Regions from separate parts of the Homo sapiens genome. Here region 2 is linked to region 1. Evidence: fine-mapped expression QTL. A gene starts in region 1. The other region holds a variant in brackets. All regions are shown on one strand. Distances are between the middles of the regions.

Region 1 (9,840 bases):
ACTCTTTAAACTCCTTATTGGCCAGGTGCAGTGGCTTGTGTCTGTAGTCCCAGCAACTTGGAAGGCTGAGGCAGGAGATTCACTTGAGTCTGGGAGTTTGAGACCAGCCTGGGCAGCACAGTGAGACCCCATCTCTAAAAAAAGTAAAAAATAAGTTAGGCATGGTGATGCATGCCTGTAGACCCAGTTAGCTACTCAGGAGGCTGAGGCAGACGGTTGCTTGATCCCAGGAGTTCAAGGCTTTAGTGAGGTGACTGTGCTACTGCACTGCAGCCTGGGTGACAGAACAAGACCCCGACTCTAAAAAATAAAATAAATTCGGGAGGCTGAGGCAGGAGAATCGCTTGAACCCAGGAGGCAGAGGCTGCAGTGAGCCGAGATTGTGCCACTGCACTCCAGCCTGGGTGACAGAGTGAGACTAAGTCTCAAAATAAAATAAAATAAAGTAGAATAAAATAGATAAAATAAATAAATAATAAAACTCATCAAGAAGAGTTTAGGGAATAGATACTATAGACTTTCCAAAGGTTGAAAGATCTGGGTTTGCTTCTTGGGTTTGCAACCCTAGTAGCTGTATAACTTTCAGAGACTTTGTGCTTTTTTTTTTTCATTGAGACAGCGTCTCACTCTGTCACCCAGACTAGAGTGCAGTGGCACAATCATGACTCACTACAGCCTCCACCTCCCAGGCTAAAGTGATCCTCCTGCCTCAGCCTCCTGAGTAGCTGGGACTACAGGCATGCGCTACCATGCCTGCCTAATTTTTTAGTTTTTTTTGTGGAGATAGGGTCTCAGAATGTTGCCCAGGCTGGTCTCAAGCTCCTGAGCTGGACTCAAGTGATCCTCCTGCCTCAACCTCCCAAAGTGCTGAGATTATAGGCATGAGTCACTGCACCTGGCCTTTTCTTTTTTCTTTTCTTTTTCGAGATGGGCTCTTGCTGTGTACAGTGGTATATCACAGCTCACTGCAGCCATGAATTCCTGGGCTCAAGCAATCCTCCTGCCTCAGCCTCCCAAGTACCCAAGACTGCAGGTGTGTGTTACCACACCTGGCTAAGTTTTCTTTTCTTTTTGAGACAAGGTCTCACTTTGTCGCCCATGCTGGAGTACAGGGGCTCAATCTTGACTCACTGCAGCCTCTACCTCCCAAGCTCAGGTGATCCTCCTGCCTCAGCCCCCCAAGTAGCTGGGGCCACAGGTGTGTGCCACCATGTCCAGCTAGTTTTTTTTTTTGTTTTTTTTTTTGGTAGAGGTGAGGTTTTGCATGTTGCCCAGGCTAGTCTTGAACTCCTGGGCTCAAGTGATCCTCCTGCCTCAGCCTCCCAAAGTGCTGGGATTATAGGCATGAGTCACTGCACCCGGCCTTTTTTTTTTTTTTTTTTTTTTTGAGATGGGCTCTTGCTATGTCAGCCAGGCTGCAGTACAGTGGCATGATCACAGCTCACTGCAGCCACGAATTCCTGGGTTCAAGCAATCCTCCTGCCTCAGCTTCCCAAGTGCCCGAGACTGTAGGTGTGTGTTGCCACACCTGGCTAAATTTTTTCTTTTTTTTTTTTGTCATAAAGTCTCACTTTGTCACCCATGCTGTAGTGCAGTGGCACAATCTTGGCTCACTGCAGCCTTGACCTCCCATGCTCAGGTGATCCTCCTACCTCAGCCCCCTAAGTAGCTGAGACCACAGGTATGTGCCTCCACGTCCAGCTAATTTCTGTAGAGATGGAGTTTTGCCATGTTGCCCAGGCTGGTCTTGAATTCCTGGGCTCAAGCGAATCTCTCGCCTCAGCCTCCCAAGTAGTCAGGACTGCAGGTGTGCATTGCCATGCCTGGCTAAATTTTTGTTTTTTTTTGGTAGAGATGGGGTCTTGCTATGTTGCCCAGTCTGGTCTTGAACTCCTGGGCTTAAGTGATCCTCTTGTCTCCACCTCCTAAAGTTTGTCACCTTCTTGAAACAGTCATTATCAGTTCTCATGAAGCCTTCCCCAATTTGCAGCACATTCCCCTTTGCACACTTCTTCTCGCACTGAAAAATGTCCTTGTCTTTCATTTGTGTCTATGTATCCGATTTCTTTGAGGCTGCAACACCTCTGTCAGGGTGTGGGTGGTGTGGGTCCCTTGTGGTATTGCAAGTTCCATACTGGGTGCTCAGAATGTTTAATGAGCTCATTGAATAAAATTGGCACACTAGACTAACGATATAGGAAGCTGGTGAGGCCGGGTGTGGTGGTCTCATGCCTGTAATCCCAGCACTTTGGGAGGCTGAGATGGGTGGATCACTTGAGTTCAGAAGTTTGAGACCAGCCTGGCCAACATGGTGAAATCTCTACTAAAAATACAAAAATTAGCTGGGCGTGGTGGCTCCTGCCTGTAATCCCAGCTACTTGGGAGGCTGAGACAGGAGAATCCCTTGAACCTGGGAGGCAGAGGTTGCAGTGAGCTGAAGTTGTGCCACTGCACTCCAGCCTGGGTGACAGAGCAAGACTCCGTCTCAAAAACAAAAAGAAGCTGGCTGAACTGCTGTGAATGTCTCATCTGCAAATATAACTCAAAATTTTTAGTGTCATTTGTGGGAATTATTTTGGTACAGAAATAAAAGATGGGCCAGGTGCGGTGGCTCATGCCTATAATCCCAGCACTTTGGGAGGCCGAGGCGGGCGGATCACGAGGTCAGGAGATCGAGACCATCCTGGCTAACACAGTGAAACCCCATCTCTACTAAAAATACAAAAAAATCAGCCGGGCGTGGTGGTGGGCACCTGTAGTCCCAGCTACTCAGGAGGCTGAGGCAGGAGAATGGTGTGAACCTGGGAGGCGGAGTTTGCAGTGAGCTGAGATCGAGCCACTGCACTCCAGTCTGGGCAACAGAGTGACTCCATCTCAAACAAAAAAAAACAAAAAACAAAATAAATAAAAGATGAAGCAACATACGATGTATAAGCCTCTGGCCAGCAGGCCATGCTGATCTTACCTAGGATTTTAACATAAGCAAAAAGACTGTGACAAATTCAAGATTGAGATTTCCCTGCTGAAGGTGTAAACCAGGACTTTGGAAAACTGAAAACAAACATGTTCACTTCTAGAAAGTGCCGGCAGTTTTGGGTTGCGTTACCTCAATTTATAGCCTTGCCTTGGATGCTGGTCATCTGTAGCAGGTTTGGGTGGATGTTTCAGATTTTACTCGGTGTCTCGTTGGGCAAAGGGGTCTGTGCATTTGTCTGTGTGATTCAGCAATGAGGGCCTGTGAGGAAGAACCAGCAGGTGGCACAGAGAGGGACTCCATGGTCTGCACTCTCAGCAGTGGTGCCAGCCTCAGGAGGAGAGAGAGCCCTGGGAGCTGGCCAAGGGCAGGGCCGGGCACTGCTTCCCAAACTGACTGTGCCCTGCAGTAACAGCACATCTCACACCTGACACACACAATGCGAATCATTATTTATCCTTACTACGGGTGATGCACACTAATTTTAATTTCATTCGAAAGGAAAGTACTGGCCTATGACCCACAAGTGGGTGGTCAGGAGCAGTTTAGAAAACACTGGACCAGGCCGGGCGCGGTGGCTCACGCTTGTAATCCCAGCACTTTGGGAGGCCAAGGCGGGCAGATCATGAGGTCAGGAAATTGAGACCAGCCTGGCTAACATGGTGAAACTCTGTCTCTACTAAAAATACAGAAAATTAGCTGGGCATGGTGGCCAGCGCCTGTAGTCCCAGGTACTTGGAGGCTGAGGCAGGAGAATTGCTTGAACCCGGGAGATGGAGATTGCAGTGAGCCAAGATCATGCCACTGTACTCCAGCGTGGGTGACAGAGCGAGACTCCATCCAAAAACAAAAAGAAAACACTGGTCCAGGCTGGGGGCAGTGGCTCACACCTGTAATTCCAGCACTTTGGGAGGCCGAGGTGGGTGGATCACCTGAGGTCGGGAGTTCGAGACCAGCATGACCAACATGGAGAATCTCCGTCTCTACTAAAAATACAAAATTAGCCAGGCGTGGTGGCACATGCCCGTAATCCCAGCTACTCGAGAGGCTGAGGCAGGAGAATCACTTGAACCCGGGAGCCAGAGGTTGCGGTGAGCCGAGATCACACCATTGCACTCCAGCCTGGGCAACAAGAGCGAGACTCCATCTCAAAAAAAGAAAACACTGGACCATCAAGAGTTCGAGACCAGCCTGGCCAACGTGGTGAAACCCTGTCCCTACAAAAAATACAAAAATTAGCCAGGCATGGTGGCGGGTGCCTGTAATCCCAGCTACTCGGGAGGCTGAGGCAGGAGAATCACTTGAACCCAGGAGGCGGAGGTTGCAGTGAGTTGAGCGCGCCATTGCACCCCAGCCTGGGTGGGCCAGAGCCCGGCTGCCCCAGGGCCAGCAGTGCCTGGGTGCTTGTTGGAAATGCAGCTCTCAACTCCTCCCTGCCCCAGTGCATCAGGACCTGCCTGCAAAGTGATCCGTCTGCACTTCAGTTTGAGAAGGCCTGGCCTAGAGGACAGTGGGTCTGGCATGCTGGGCTGAGAGGCAGTACTGGGAGCGATTCTTGGGGCCTCCTTGCCGACAATTGGGTGAAACCAGCGGATACGATCGTAGCGTCTCTGAGCCCCCATTGCCTCCTTGTTTCTCTGCCCATAGTAGAAGAATGTCTCTGAAATTACTGGATGAGTTTCAGTCATACTTTCACATGGGCACAATTTCACATTCAAGCTCCTTATCCTAGGCTAATTTTATATTATGTTAAATCACTTGTTTTTGTTCTCACGGCTTCCTGCCTGCTATAGGCATAATTACGAGGAAGCAGAACTTCTCCAGAAGCAAGCGCACATGCGTTCCAAAATAAGAGCAAATTCGCTCTAAACACAGGAAAAGACCTGAAGCTTTAATTAAGGGGTTACATCCAACCCCAGAGCGCTTTTGTGGGCACTGATTGCTCCAGCTTCTGCGTCACTGCGCGAGGGAAGAGGGAAGAGGATCCAGGCGTTAGACATGTATAGACACAAAAACAGCTGGAGATTGGGCTTAAAATACCCACCAAGCTCCAAAGAAGAGACCCAAGTCCCCAAAACATTGATTTCAGGGCTGCCAGGAAGGAAGAGCAGCAGCAGGGTGGGAGAGAAGCTCCAGTCAGCCCACAAGATGCCATTGTCCCCCGGCCTCCTGCTGCTGCTGCTCTCCGGGGCCACGGCCACCGCTGCCCTGCCCCTGGAGGGTGGCCCCACCGGCCGAGACAGCGAGGTGAGTACAGTCCCGACGTGGCCACACGCTAGCCCACTCTCTGTCTCTTGTTGGCTTTTTGGCCTGCATGGTGTGTGTGTGTGCACGTGTGTTGCACTTCACAGCTTGGACAGGACACACGGCTCAACTTTGTAGTGTTCTTGGCTGGCCCGAGGTACTGGGATGCCGCATTCAGACCACTGATCCTCAGTTACATGTCCCAACCCATGAAGCCTGCTGGAAACCTGTGCAGCTCAAGGAGGGCCCTCCGTCGGGTGTCTGGGAAAGGGGAAGCGAGTGTACCCGTCCACTGCAGGGCAGGCATGGAGCTGCGACAGCCCTTCCAGAGCCTTCAGTTATACATAGCACAGGCTCCCACTGGCTCAGAGTAATTGGCATCATTACATTTTCCGTTGTGAGAATTTGTAACTTCGTGAGGTGATTGATTGTTCTTTTTTCCATTTTGAGAAAGTTCCAAGAAAGGGTATATAAAGTTGAGCATTAAAAATGGATTTTTCTCTAAAATTACCAGATGAGTTTCAGGCAGGCCATTTATCAGCAGATTACTCCCAGAAGCTTTCTAAGGAATTTGAAAAACCAGAATATAACGTTTGTTTCAGTCCCATCGTCTCAGAAAGCAACTTGTGAACATCCAGGAGTGTGGCCAAAGGTGGGAGAATGAGTAAATTAGCCTGATCCAACTCCGGGCTTCTCAGCTGCCAGTCACTGAGGGGAAAATGGCAGATTTCCCGACCTCTCCTAATTAAGGACCTTAGCAGAGTATGGAGCAAAACCAGGTTTCTTCCCTTGACTTAAAATGACCAACTTTTCTCTAATTAAAGCAATTTCTTTAAGGTATTCTCTTCACTTTCTCATCCTCATCCGTTAAATGGAAATGAGGCTTATCGCTATGGAGCATCTTTTCATTTTAATATTTTCTTTCTCTTTTCTCCAGGGTAGTCTTTTAGATCATTTTTTTTTTTAAGTAAGGAGGAGATTGCATATCTTTGAATGCTTGCTGCCTGAGCCAGATTGCTGAGTTTTCTTTCCTTTGCCATCTGCTTCTCTTTAAAAGCATATGCAGGAAGCGGCAGGAATAAGGAAAAGCAGCCTCCTGACTTTCCTCGCTTGGTGGTTTGAGTGGACCTCCCAGGCCAGTGCCGGGCCCCTCATAGGAGAGGAAGCCCGGGAGGTGGCCAGGCGGCAGGAAGGCGCACCCCCCCAGCAATCTGCGCGCCGGGACAGAATGCCCTGCAGGAACTTCTTCTGGAAGACCTTCTCCTCCTGCAAATAAAACCTCACCCATGAATGCTCACGCAAGTGTAATGACAGACCTGAATAAAATGTATTAAGCAGCAGTGATCTTTCCTCTCCTCCTTCCCAAGTCATTTGAAAAGTGTTTGTTATTTAAATTCCAATAATGCCCAATACTGACGTGTCTTGAGTAATTTGGAACCCAAAGTGAAGATCTTTGATAAAGATTTTTTTGTGGTTCGACTGGACTGTGCTGAGTGCGGGCACTGGGCTTTTCTTCTGATGTTCATTATGGTGCTGGGAAGCTCTGTCTTTGATTTAAAATAAAATAGCTAAAGGCTACACAATTAAGAGTTCAGAATAACATCTTATTTCAGTTTATGAATTGATATGAATTGTCTAATTTAAAAAATATTTCCCTCACATTAAAAGCAAATTTTTAATATCAGGCTCGAAGAGCAAAATGATTATTCCTCATGTTTTAGCTGAAATTAATTTTAAAACATATTAAACAGAAAACCTGCTGACATGCCTGTGAAACTGATACTCGAACTTGCTGTTATGTACCAGTTTTAATTAGTAGCTTAATGGGTTGCAATTCTTTTCATGGATTATAGCTTCAGATTTGCTTTGGGAGGAATGAAGGCTACCCACAGAATTTTTTTTTTTTTGAGACGGAGTCTAGCTGTCACCCAGGCTGGAGTGCTATGGCGCGGTCTCAGCTCACTGCAACTTCCGCCTCCCAGGTTCATGTGATTCTCCTGCCTCAGCCTCCTGAGTAGCTGGGACTACAGCATGCGCTTCCATGCCTGGCTAATTTTTTTTTTTTTTTTTTTAGATGGAGTTTCGCTTTTGTTGCCCAGGCTGGAGTGCTATGGCACGGTCTCAGCTCACTGTGGCTTCCGCCTCCGAGGTTCAAGTGACTCTCCTGCCTCAGCCTCCCAAGTAGCTGGGACTACAGGCACACACCACCACGCCTGGCTAATTTTTGTATTTTTAGTAGAGACGGGGTTTCTCCATGTTGGTCAGGCTGGTCTCGAACTCCTGGCTTCAGGTGATCCACCTGCCTTGGCCTCAGAAAGTGCTGGGATTACCAGCGTGAGCCACTGCGCCTGGCCATGAAGGTTTTTCGATGCTAAACTTCATTGGGAAAACCAGCAAAGGCTGGCTGGAGGACACGGGAATATTCTCTTCTCTGGACACCAGGGGAGCGGACTCCCTGAGAATGGCTGCTGACCGTCCGTTGTTTTCTGCCGAGCTGAGCTCATATTCATAATTACTAGCTGAATAAAGTATAATGTGATGGAAGAGACTTAATAGCATCCACGTTTCCAAACACAGCAGCTTTAGGAGACCAGGAATTGGGTCAGTGCACTGGTGGAAGATGCCTGCCTGAAAGGCCAGCTAACCTTCCAGAACTTTGTTTTTTTTAAAGATTTTTTCTAGAAAGAAGCCATGCTTATTGTTTTTCAGTTTTTAAATTGGGGTCGGCAGGGCGCGGTGGCTCATGCCTGTAATCCCAGCACTGTGGGAGGTTGAGGCAGGCAGATCACTTGAGGCCAGGAGTTCGAGACCAGCCTGGCCAACATGATGAAACCCTGTCTCGACTAAAAATACAAAAATTACCCAGGCGTGATGGTGCACCCCTGTAATCCCAGCTACTTGGGAGGCTGAGGCACGAGAATCACTTGAGCCTGGGAGGCGGAAGTTGTAGTGAGCCGAGGTCATGCCACTGTACTCCAGCCTGGGTGACAGAACGAGACTCTGTCTCAAAAATAATAGTAAAATAAGATAAAATAGGGGCTGGGCGTGGTGGCTCACACCTGTAATCCCAGCACCTTGGGAGGCCGAGCTGGGTGGATCACCTGAGGTCGGGTGTTCAAGACCAGCCTGATCAACGTGGTGAAACCCTGTCTCTACTAAAAACACCAAAAATTAGCCGGGCTTGGTGGCACATACCTGTAATCCCAGCTACTCAGGAGGCTGAGGCAGGAGAATCACCTTAACCCGGGAGGCAGAGATTGCAGTGAGCCAAGATTGTGCCACTGCACTCCAGCCTGGGCGACAGAGTGAGACTCCGTCTCAAAAAATAAAATACATTGGGGTCATCCACACAGACTTTAAGATTGGGGATTTTACCTTTTAACTAAGTAGTTATCTGTAGGATAATGAGGCTCTACTAGTGCTACTGCCAGGAAATTCAAGTCTAAGCCTACCTTAGTTCAGGGGACTTCATACGACATTAACTGGCATCAGCTGCATGTTAGACCAGATGAATATGCTTGTGATTAATAAATCAGGGTAAAATGGTCATTTCCCACCATCTGGTTTTTGGTGGCCTTTTCTGTAGTTCAGTAGAGTCAGGTGTGTAGATCTGGGTAATCAGGCCCTGGGCAACTTCAAGTTCATGCTCTTGTTATTTTGTCCAGGATTTGGCACCAGAACAGCTCCCTAACTGCTGAGGAGGAATGAAGGACAACAGACACTCACAGCTTTCCTATTTCAGGGCTGGCAGCAAAGGATTCCAGGCTTTAGGAAACTCCTCAGACTGGGAAGCTCAGGGGAGATACTTACCTTGATGTAAGCAGCACCTGTTGAAGGGCAGCCCGTCTTTTTTTTTTTTTTTTTTTTTTTGAGACAGAGTCTCCCTCTGCCACCCAGGCTGGAGTGCAGTGAAGTGATCTTGGCTCACTGTAAGCTCCACCTCCCGGGCTCAGGTCATTCTTCTGTCTCAGCCTCCCGAGTAGCTGGGACTACAGGCACCCGCCACCACACCCAGCTAATTTTTTCTATTTTTTTGTAGAGATGGGGTTTCACCGTGTTAGCCAGGATGGTCTCGATCTCCTGACCTTGTGATCCACCCACCTCAGCCTCCCAAAGTGCTGGGATTACAGGTATGAACCACCGCGCCTGGCCAGGGGCAGCCCATCTTAAAAACAGTAGCGTTTTCCATAGAGAGAGAGGTTTCATTTGGAATGTTTTAGGCCGTTCTTGTGCTGCTATAAAGAAATACCTGGCCAGGTGCGGTGGCTCACGCCTGTAATCCCAACACTTTGGGAGGCCGAAGCAGGCGGATCACAAGGTCAGGATTTCCAGACCAGCCTGACCAAAACGGTGAAACCCCATCTCTACTTAAAAAAAAAAAAAAAAAAAAAATCATGGCACCAGGCATCTGCTCAGTTTCTGGTGAGGCCTCAGGAAGCTTCCAATCATTACAGAAAGCCAAGTAGGACCCAGTGTATCACACAGTGAGAGCAAGAGCAAGAGAGAGACTTGGCCTGAGTAGGGGGATGCCACACACTTTTTTTTTTTTTTTTTTTTTTTGAGAGGGCGTTTCGCTCTTGTTGCCTAGGCTGGAGTGCAATGGCGATCTCGACTCACTGCAA
Region 2 (9,840 bases), 240 kb after region 1:
TTTACCAGAGGAAGGGAGCCCACAGGGGCAGCTGCTGGCCTGTCCCCCAGCCAGCAAGTCACACAAACCAGCTCCAGCTGGTGTCACTGGGGCCTGAGGTAGACCATGCTGCTGGGAAGAGGCTACTGGGGCCAACCTGACCCCGTGGCCCCCACCTGACCCCTTCCCAGGAAGGGCCCCCCACCCAGCACGGGGGCCTGTGGGCGCCTGGCCGTCCTCTCCTCTCCTTACATGCCCTTGGCCGAACCACTGTACTCTTCCCTCTCAAGGTCACAGGGCCGTCCACACCAGGAATATTTACTCACTGGACTGGCCCTGTTAGCAGCACTCACCACAAATATGCTTTCTGATAAAGTTGGCAGAAAAAAAATTCTAGAGCTCAAACCAATGTCAGAAATCATCCCCCGCCCCTACCAAGGGAGCACGAGGTGGGGCCTGGAAACAGGTCACACACCAACTATGGGGCAGCCCTGGGGGGGCTTGTATCACGCCCCCTCTCACCTTTCTCCTTCCTGTTTTACCTGGGACAGCCTGTTGCCCAGGGGACCAAGGGCTGGGGACAGTTCTAAGCCGAGGACTGGGTCTTGGGGACACTCGGGCCTCTGGAAGACAAGGCGGGTAGGGTGTCACCTGGGCTTCCCCCCAGGCCGTCTCAGCTCACTGCGCCCCTCCCCGCCACCCTCTCTTGGTGCACAGGGGCTCTGCATGTTTTTATTACCTGTTTGACTCACCGCCTTATTGCTTCTCCCCTTAATGGGGCCGTAACCGTGGAAACGAGGAATAAACGGCCACCAGAAAATGAGATGATTAAACAGGTCACCCTGGCAAACAAACTCAGCCAAGGAACCTCTGGGGGTGGGGACGCTAGGCTGCCCCTCCCCCACCCGTGGCCAGAAGGCCTGGACCAGGTCCTGACCACATTGCCCCACACCTAAAAGGATGGGGGGCAGATGCCGTGGGGCACCCCCTGCCGGGCAGTGGAGAGCCGGGTCATCCTTTTGCGAGGCAGCCCGGCTTCCTGTGGCCTTGGGTTCCCAGGCTGAAGGGGTGACAGACAGGGAGGCACTGGGCTAGAGGGCGGTGAGGATCACAGCTGCAGGGAAGAGGCACTTCCCGGTGACAAAACTTCCAGGAGTCTCTCCCAACAGGCCTCTGGGACGCCTCCTGCTCTCCCGCTGCACTAGGGTCCCCCCATCTAAAGCTCTGCCCGGCTCCTCCAGTCCCCCATTCTCACACAGCGCAGTCCCTCCCAAGGCCCCCTTAGATCACTGAAAGAGCCCCATAAGAAAAGGCCAGGCGACCTTTGGGAACACCTGGTCTCTGGAAACACAACATGTGTCCGTTTCCCAGCTCCTGCCTTCTCCTCCAAAGCCAGGCAGTGCCCCAGCCTCAGCCAGGTGGCATCAAGAGACAGCCCTCTTGGCTTTAGGAAGGGTGTCAGCAGGTGAGTGATTACAGCACCAGCAGGGCCCAGAAGGGCCAGAGGAGACCCCAGAGTCAGGCCTGTGGGACATTCTAAGAGCAGATGCCCCGGCCAGGAGTGGCCCACATACCACGCCCGGGGCAGAGGCCTGAAGCCCTGGCGCCTGGCTGGCCCTCAGTATGGGTGTATCCCTGTCTTTCTGGCCTCACTCCCTGCCCTGGGTTTGTCTAGCTGGAGGGATCCCGGAAGCGGGGAAGAGAATGAGAGAGGGCAGACATGCAGTGGTGAGGTCTGCTCAGGAGGAGAGAGAAAGGGGAGAGGGAGATGGGCAAGGGAGGAAGTGGAGAAGGGCCCAGATCACCCTCTGGCTGCAGCCATCCTGTCCCCACTGGGCAGCAGACTGACGTCCCAGTCCCAGGCCATGGTCATGGTTAGGAGTTACTGTGGGTCCCATTCAACCATCAACACTCCTGTCTTTATCCTTAGGGCTTCCCTGCCCCTTTCACGTCATCCCAAATCCCAGCCTCGCTCCTTCCTGTAAACCAGGCTCTAGAAAGCTCTCAAGGAGCTAAAACCCAGGTCCCAAGGGAATTGGCCAACATTTCCTGCCTTCCTCCTTCTGCCCCCACTAAGAAGCCGGGGAGGCACTTGGGGAAGAGGCACATCAATCAATCAGTTCCACCAGCACTTACAGCAGGAAGGCGTGAGCCCCGGCCCGTACCAGGCCCGGGGAGGAGGTGGCAGTACACCAGCTACCATCTAATGGTCACCATTAGGAGCAGCCGTGGCAGAGGAAAACAAGGGCCCTGGCCTCCTGGGGATCAGGGCACATGAGTCCGAGTGCTGGGTCCTGGCACAGCAACGTCACAGGTCTACCCGGAGCCCCAGAACAGCAGGCTCGCAGCCAGCAGCTTCTCTATCTTTTTCCAGGGCCAACGGGGTGTGAGGCTGGAAAGGTTGCATGGGGCAAGAAAGGTAGCAGGGAGGGCCCGGCTTTAGGGAGCTGGGTGGCCTGGATGAAAAAGACAGAAAAACGTGGTTGCAAAATGGGAAGCAAGAGTTCTGCTCTTGGAGGGAGGGGGAGGACAAGGCGCAGAGAGAAGGGGCTGGCTAGGAGTCTAGAAAGCATGGTGGCGGAGGGAGGTCCCTTAAGGCCACTCTTTCACAAAGCTGCATGGTCCCTGGCTCCTGGCTCCTCGGCCTGGTGGGACAGCAGACCGCTCCTCTCCCTCCACTAGGCAGACGCTGCCAACACAGGGGCCCGGGCAGTCCTCATTTCCGTCCCTCTTGCTGCAGGAGAGCCTCCCATGCCTCCTGGGTTTCAGGCCTCGCCTCCCACATGGGTGTCTTACATCCTGCTGAGTCGAGGGTGTCAGGGTGCTGTTCTGTGGCCAGGCAGCCAGAGGGGTGTGCGCTAGACCACCAAGCTGCTGCCCTGCACAGGTGGTCCCGGCGAGGCTGCCCCTCCTCTTTTGCACACTGGGGCTGCCCGCCCTCCTCCTGCTCCCAGCTTCTCCCTACTCATTGTACCCTGGCCCAGCTACCCCAGAACAGCTGCTGCTTGCCGTGGGGACCCACGGGCGGTAATTACTACAGTGCAACTTCCTTCCCCCTCTGAAGATGAGGAGGAGAAGGAGGAAAAGGAGGAAGAGGTGGGAGCAGCGGCCAGGGTGGTCAGGGTGTAAAAATCAGCTCAGGGAAGGCCGTGTTAGAAGGTGAGCCTTGGGGCCTGGGGGCATGGGGGGTGGGCCAGGTGGAGAAATGGCTGAGCCCTGGAAAAGTGTTGGGCCAGCCGTTCTAGAGGAGGCTGATGGAGGCTGGGGCTGCACCACTGACCTGGCAGGACCCAGGAAGAAGAGGAGTTGGGGCCAAGAGCCTTTCCAAGCCCCACCCAATCCCCTGCTCAGGCAGCGGGCACGGCCTTGAGCCAGGGCAGCCACTTTCACGAGGAGATGCCGCTGCGTGGCTTAGCCCTCCAAAGGTGCCTGCATTTATTTTATTTTTCCATCATAAAAACCCAAGCTGCAGCTCAGCCAGATTCTGGGGCTGTGGGGGCTGGGGGAACACCAGTAGTACCGACAAGGCCAGTAGAGAGGTCTGAGTAACACTCACATTCAGTGCCTTTCTTGGAGAGGAGAGTGAATGGGTTCTCCTCGCTGGTCCCTACCAGGGAAAAAGGGCCAGGGGTGGGGTCTCTCTAGGGAGCCTTTCGGACCTGCCCTTCTGCCTCTGCCTCTTGTTGGGGAGGAAAGGCTATGCTAGGCCTTTTAGCCTCAGTTTCCTCTGACGTCTTGCAACTAGAACCAGGGCTGGTTCAAAGGGTCACTTCACAGCCCAGAGCTGCCTGTCTCCAATGCTCTCCACCAAAGAAAAGGTCCAAATAATGTGCTCCTCACCTCGTCCACTCACCCCCTACTCCCACCCGCCAGGACTGCCCCACTGAACAAAATCAAGTTGGGAGTCAGACAGCTGAAGATCTTAAAGGTCATCTGATGCTCAAGTCCCTCTAAATGTCACTAACCGGTGCACAGCACAAACCTCTGTTTGAATGGTACCAGGAAACTCATGACTTCCGAGATGGCCCATTCTGTCCCGGGCTCTGACAGCTCCTTTCTGCCAAGATGGCCCCAGAGCACCTACCCCCTGCAGCAGACTGGCAAAACCGGTGCCCAACCTGGCTACAGGGGCTGGCCCCAGCTTAGACTGGTTGAGTGGGTGTATCTGGCCAAGTAAAGGCTGGAGGAAGGAAATTGAGAGCAATCTGCTCTGCCCTAAACCCGGCGTGGAATCTCTTCCTCCAGTACAGCACAGGAACCTTCTCAGTCCCCGGTGCCTGGCAGGTCGAAGGTGTAACCAGAGCTAGTGAGGTTCCTAGAAGCCTCCACACTTGGCAAGGCTCTGGCCTTGACCTGGCAGCTCATGGAAGGTCTGATCTGAAGGTGGTTGACACTCAGGGCAGGGGCCTGAGCAGCACACACTGGGGCTGGGTTGGGGATGCCAAGCTCTTTGCTCTCTCAGCTTAGACACCGTCTAGAAGAAGTCTGCGGCCTACCTCAAGACAGTATGCTCTCAAAGCATGGGGCTACTGAGAATCAGGAAAATGAGCCAGCCTGGCCCAGCTTCTGATCCCACGCTTCCTGGCCTCCCCACAGTTGAGGCCTGGGCTGTCTGCGATGGGGGATCTGCTGGCAATGCAAGGGGGTCCTGGCCTGGAGCCCCAGAAGGAGAAAGAAACCGGCCGGGCTTCCTCCCATTGACCCGCCTCGACGACAAGGCTGCAGCCACAGCGACACATGGGCAGCACTGTCCCTCACCGGCACCCCCTGCAGTCCGTGGCCATCCCTTTAAAGTTGCCCTCTTGCCTCTTTGGCCCTTGACCTTGTAGAGCCTATCTTGGCTCCTCCGCGCCTTGGACAGCCCCACCCCTTTGTCTCAAGAAGAGAAGGGGCAACTATCATCAGATCCCCACGAGTCAAGGGCGAACGCCTGCTCAGAGCTCCACCCGTGCTTCACCGCCATTTTCACCCTGGCTTCTAGCTGTGTTCAGGGCCTGGGAATCAGCCTGGTGGGACCTAACCCTGGGAGCTTCCCAACTGCAGGATGGATGTACCTGTGTCTGAAAGCTTCCTCCCATCTCCCCTCCCCCCTTCCCGCTCCCTCCCCCAGGGAAATCACTCTAAAAGGGCCTAATGGAACTATGTCCTCCTCTCTTCCTCTCTCCCCTCCCTCCCTCCCTCCCTCTCTTTCCTTTTTTTTTTATTAGCATTTGTGGAATTTATTCCCAAACTCTCCTAATCTTCCGTACACAACCATTTGATTTGCATAACCCAACCCCCTCTCATAAAAACTGGCTGCTAGTTTAATTAAAAAATGTAAATTTGCTGTCATCTCGGGGCCTGGTGAATTAGGACGACATCGGCATTTTTTATTGCTAAAGACGTCCAGATTGATCCAGCCCTTGGCTGAACTATGGTGGGGGAAAGGGGGTCCACATGGCCCCTGAGGGTCCTGAGGTCCTTCTGTCCCCTCCTGAGAAGGCTTGGCTCTCCCACCACTGACTTCCTCATGGCTGAAGGCCTTCAGGACCTAGATGTGTCCGGG[G/GC]CCGCGGGGATGTTAACCTACGATCAGGGAGGCATGGTGGGTCCATGATGCCAGCAGCCCTTCGAGGCCTGCGCCCCTGGCCTTGGACTATGTCAGAGAGGCCCTCGGCTGAAGCTGCCCACGCTGCCCCAGAGGAAGGGACCCTCACTTCACCAGCCACGAGCCCCGGCCAGAGACGAGGCCCATGGCCCCAGCTGTATGCCGTGTGCACTATGAAGTTGAGGGAGCTGTTCCCAGCTCCTGAAGATGAGCATGGAGTCAGCCCAGGGACCAGCTCAGAGGGGATCTCAGCGTCCTCATCTGCTTCCCTTTTTTGGTGAAGTGGGGGGAAGACTGCTTTTCTTCTGAAGTTCTGAGATTATAAGTGAAACTTCCAAGTTCAAAGAAGAGACTGAGATGGTATCACCAGATGACTCCTCCAGGAAACAGTCAGAACTCTGCCACCCTGGGCCTCCCCTCTGAGTGGCCAGAGTCCAGGCCTGAGTCCCACTGGGAGTGCTCTACTCCAGCTACAGGAGGAAGCAGCTGACCTCAGGGTCCCTTCTAGCTTCTAGGAAAAGTTTCCAGAGCCTGTCCCTGGAGTGCTGGGAGAAGTCAGTCTCCCTAAGGCCCAGGAGAGAAGCCACAAGAGGCTCTGCCACCTGCCTCCTACCAGGGCTGGGAGGCCCTCGCTCCAGTCAGGACACCCTAGAGAAGGGCTTTGGAGTACTGTCCCCACGACAGACTTGGAGGGACTGGTTGGTGGATGGCAGGAGGATGGACGCTGGCTCCAGCTGGCACCCAGGTTAGGAGGAGGCCGACCAGAGGGCCTGCCTTCCAGCTCTGCAATGCCTGGGTCCTGTGTGCTGGCCCACAAGCAGAGGCTCTCCTGCCCCAGGTAAGGGGTGGTGCATTGCCACCAGGCCCATCTCTGAGGTCTGCTTCTTGGCTGGGATGGGTGGGGGCCCCATTTCCGAAGAAAGGGGGTGGGGCCTGAGAGGGAGGTGATGAGACACCGACTGGAGGTGGGGGCAGGCAGGTTCTCTGTGGGAGTGGAGGGCAGGGAGGGGCAGGGTGGCAGCCTTGGCCTTAGACACCTTTACCACTTTGCCCAGCAGGGGGTGTCACACCCTTCCCGGGCGCAGAGGTCCCCAGGCCCTCCACGTCAGACCAGCCAAGATCACACCTGGTGTCACACAGTCCTCAAACTCTGCAAATGACACCTCCCCCCAACAAACACAGGCCCTTCTTCACCGGCCACCGTGCCACCCATCCTCATCCCCTCAGGGCTGCCTCCGGTCTCTCTGCCCACTGACCTTTAGAAGGTCAGATATCAGCTCATGGGTCCCAAGGGCCGATGCTGTGAACTTGGGCCTATTATAAACAACAACGCTAACAGCCACCAGTATCACCTATCCCATCAATGAACCAGGAGAGTTCAGAGATCAGTCTCAATGAATGATCGGGCTGCTTGTTTCTTTTAAAACATTTAAGAAGACAGCTGCTTTTGTCAACCTAGCACGTGAGGGTCCTGGTCAAAATTTGGTTTCAATAGCCAGGGCCCATGGGAAGCCCGCAAGAGCTGAAGGCAAAAACACTGGAAAGAATTAGATTAAACCCAAGAAAACACCAAAATATCAGGATAAACTGCCCCAGGTGAGCACCAGGCCTCCTGGAGCCCCCGGCCTTGTCCCACAGGAGGCCCCCAAACCCAGATGCCTACGTTGAGTAGTCTGTCTGGTCCATCACCACCCCTAGGGTGGGGGCTAAAGAGGCAGGTGGGAGACAGTCCGGGGCCCCTCACTTTGAACTGATAACAGCCACCTCATCCCACAGATTCTCAGGTGAAAAATACTCATTAGCCATAATAAGCAGCTTGATCATCCGACACAGCCTTGTCCCAAATAAATTAAATTCCTTTACCTTGAGACAGTCGCCCCGAAACCAGACTAACCACCTTTCCCAACAGGACGCTGCTTTCAAAAACTAAACCACCCCCCACTAAAAAAATAAAAACACACACCCCAGAGCCAGACACACAAAGATCTTTGCAGAGAACAAAAAAAAAAAAAAAAAAAAAAAAAAGGCACACACACAGAAAAAAAACACGAAGCCATACAAAAAACACGGAGAACAAAAACCCCACAAAAACCCCCTAAATCCTCTCTCTGGGTGCCCCCCAGCTCCTGCTCCTCTCGGTTCTTTCATAATGACAAGCATCACATTAGTCACAGCCTCTAAGCAAGTGGCAAATAACAACAACAACAGCCTCAGAAGTCGCCGATCCCGAGGCCGGGACGCCGGGAGGCAGCCGCCCGACCCTCCCGGCCCCCACCCGGCCCCGCCGCCACCTCATTGGGCTAAAAATAAGAACTTCCGTAAAAGAAGCGAAAGAAAAGTGAAAGAGCCGCCCCTGCGTTCCCACCGGCCGGTACCTGTTCCAAGATCCATTCTCTTCTCCTTGGTCCCAAACTCTTCGCAGAACGCCACCAGGGGAAGACCGGGAGAGAAGAAACACGGGGTTAGCGTCTCGCGGGACCCCGGCCGCCCGCCCTGCTTGTCCCCCGCCCCGCAGGAGCGGCCCGTCCCGGGCGGGCGCCGAGGCCGCGGCGGAGAAACTTTCTCCTCCGCGCCGCCCGCTTCTCACGCTCGGCCCCGCACGCGCCCGCGGGTCCGCGCCGCCTGAGTTTCTCCAACTAAGGCAGCAACTCTCGGCCGGCGCGGCCCCGGCTTGGGGGCCCTGGCCGGGGGATCCGCGAGGCCCAGGGGCGCCCCCGTCCCGCCGACCGCGCCCCGCGCCCGGGTCGCCGCCCGAGACCGCGGCCCCCGGGCCTCCCCCGCCCGCGCCCGGTACTCACCATAGTCGGAGAGTCGAAAGCCGAATTCACTTAAATAATCAACTTTCATAATACTTAATTAATGCCTAATTGCAACTGATTACTCCCCGAATAACAAGTTGTTTTAAAGCCCTGATGTCATTGCTCCTGCCGGTAACACTCAGGGTAACAGTTTGGCAGGAGGGAGCGGGCGGGCGGGCGCGGCCGGGGGCGCTGCCAGGCGCCGCGGTGATTGGCAGGGCGGCCGCGGCGCCGCCTCCTCGGCCCGGCCCGCGCCGGCCCCGGCAGGTGAAAGAGCAGAGCGCGGCCCCGCCGCCGCCGCCGCCGCCGCCGCCGCCGCCGCCGCCCGGTGCGCCCGCCCGCCGCCCGCCGCCCGGTGCCGGAGTGAATGGGCTCGCGCTCGCTCGCGCCCCCGCCGCGCGCCCCCGCCGCGCGCGCCCGCGCCGCACTGGCAGGGCGGCCGGCTCCATTGGCTCTGCGATTCCCCAAACCTCTGGCTCCGGGAGGAGGAGGCGGGGACTTGCGCTCAGGGCTGGCGGGAGGGGACCCGGCGCGGGGCGGGGAACGCGGCCCGAGTAAGGCGCCCGCGGGCACGCGCCCACTCTTGCCGGCCGCCGGCGGCCGCGCGCGCGCTCGCATGCTGCCAGCGGCCGCTCGGGCCCCGCGAGCGCGACCGACGGCCGCCGCGCGCGCCTGCCCCACGACCCGCGCGGCCGCGCTAACTTTTCCGCGAGGGCGGGCGCAGGTGTGAGGCGCCGCGGGGCCGCGCCCGCCAGGCCGCGCGCTTCCCTGCTCCCCTGCCCGCTGCCTGCGGGCTCGGGGCTCCTGGGGTAGCACAGGGATTTCGTGTTCCCCTCACAGCACTGGCGGCTTCTGGAGCTGGAGGAACAGGAGCGCGGGGCGAGGCGGGGCAGGGCGCAGTCAGGCCCGCGCGCCCCCGCACCCCGCGCGTCCCCGGCCCTGGGCCCCAGGAGCGCCGGCCTGGGACACGCAGTGGGGTTTCCTCGGCGTTGCTTTGGTTTTGCCCTTAAAACGGGTCCAAGTGTCCTCCCAGAGCCTCCCCGGTCTTCCGGTCTTTCTGCCCACTCCTCCCTCAAAGTTGGGCCATCCGCCCCGCAGCCAGACGAATGGAGATCGGCGCCCCACTTTCCCCACAGCCCCCGACCCATGATCCCGGCCATCACTTGCGCTTCCTCCCTGCCTTGCCCCTCTGGCCGCTGCCCTAGGAAGGGCGCTCAGTAGAGCACAGGCACCCTCAACCAGGGAGTCTGAGGCCCATCCCGGCTCCTCCTCCCCTCCCCGCCACCCCCCCCCCCCCCGCCCCACGCCGTCTCCAGGCCTGTCCCCTTCAACGTGGAACCTCATTTCCTGCCAGCCCATGGCCAGCCAGGCGCTTTGTGCTGCCCGTGCTCCTCTTTCTTTTCTGCCAGAGAAGGCAGTTTGAGGGTTCTCCCCTCCATGAACCGTGCACCATGGGACATCCCCAGATGTCCCTGCTGC

Which allele goes with the higher level. Alleles are on the strand shown, and positions count from the first base shown. SD is a standard deviation of normalised expression in the study named.
With allele G in place of GC in region 2, the expression in nucleus accumbens of the gene that starts at base 4,930 in region 1 is lower (large effect, 1.2 SD a copy in GTEx).

The links.
Region 2: its variant is fine-mapped to the expression of CORT in nucleus accumbens (GTEx, PIP 0.98).

What each region holds. Positions count from the first base shown.
Region 1 is chr1:10,445,102-10,454,941 of GRCh38, forward strand. CORT (cortistatin) reads left to right here and starts at 4,930. Exons shown (of 2, transcript NM_001302.5): 1 at 4,930-5,221; 2 at 6,276-6,897. The coding sequence starts at 5,123. The coding sequence ends at 6,494. It overlaps CENPS-CORT (CENPS-CORT readthrough), which reads left to right. Exons shown (of 4, transcript NM_199006.3): 4 at 6,276-7,052. The coding sequence ends at 6,300.
Region 2 is chr1:10,685,936-10,695,775 of GRCh38, forward strand. CASZ1 (castor zinc finger 1) reads right to left here. Exons shown (of 21, transcript NM_001079843.3): 4 at 7,939-7,977. The coding sequence starts at 7,954. Among named protein-coding and RNA genes, the nearest start is that of CASZ1, 110 kb to the right of the region's middle. RefSeq lists enhancers at 187-786, 787-1,387 and silencers at 397-691, 8,104-8,193, 8,494-8,663, 8,774-8,973, 8,984-9,043. The variant G/GC (reference allele first, on the strand shown) is at 5,525.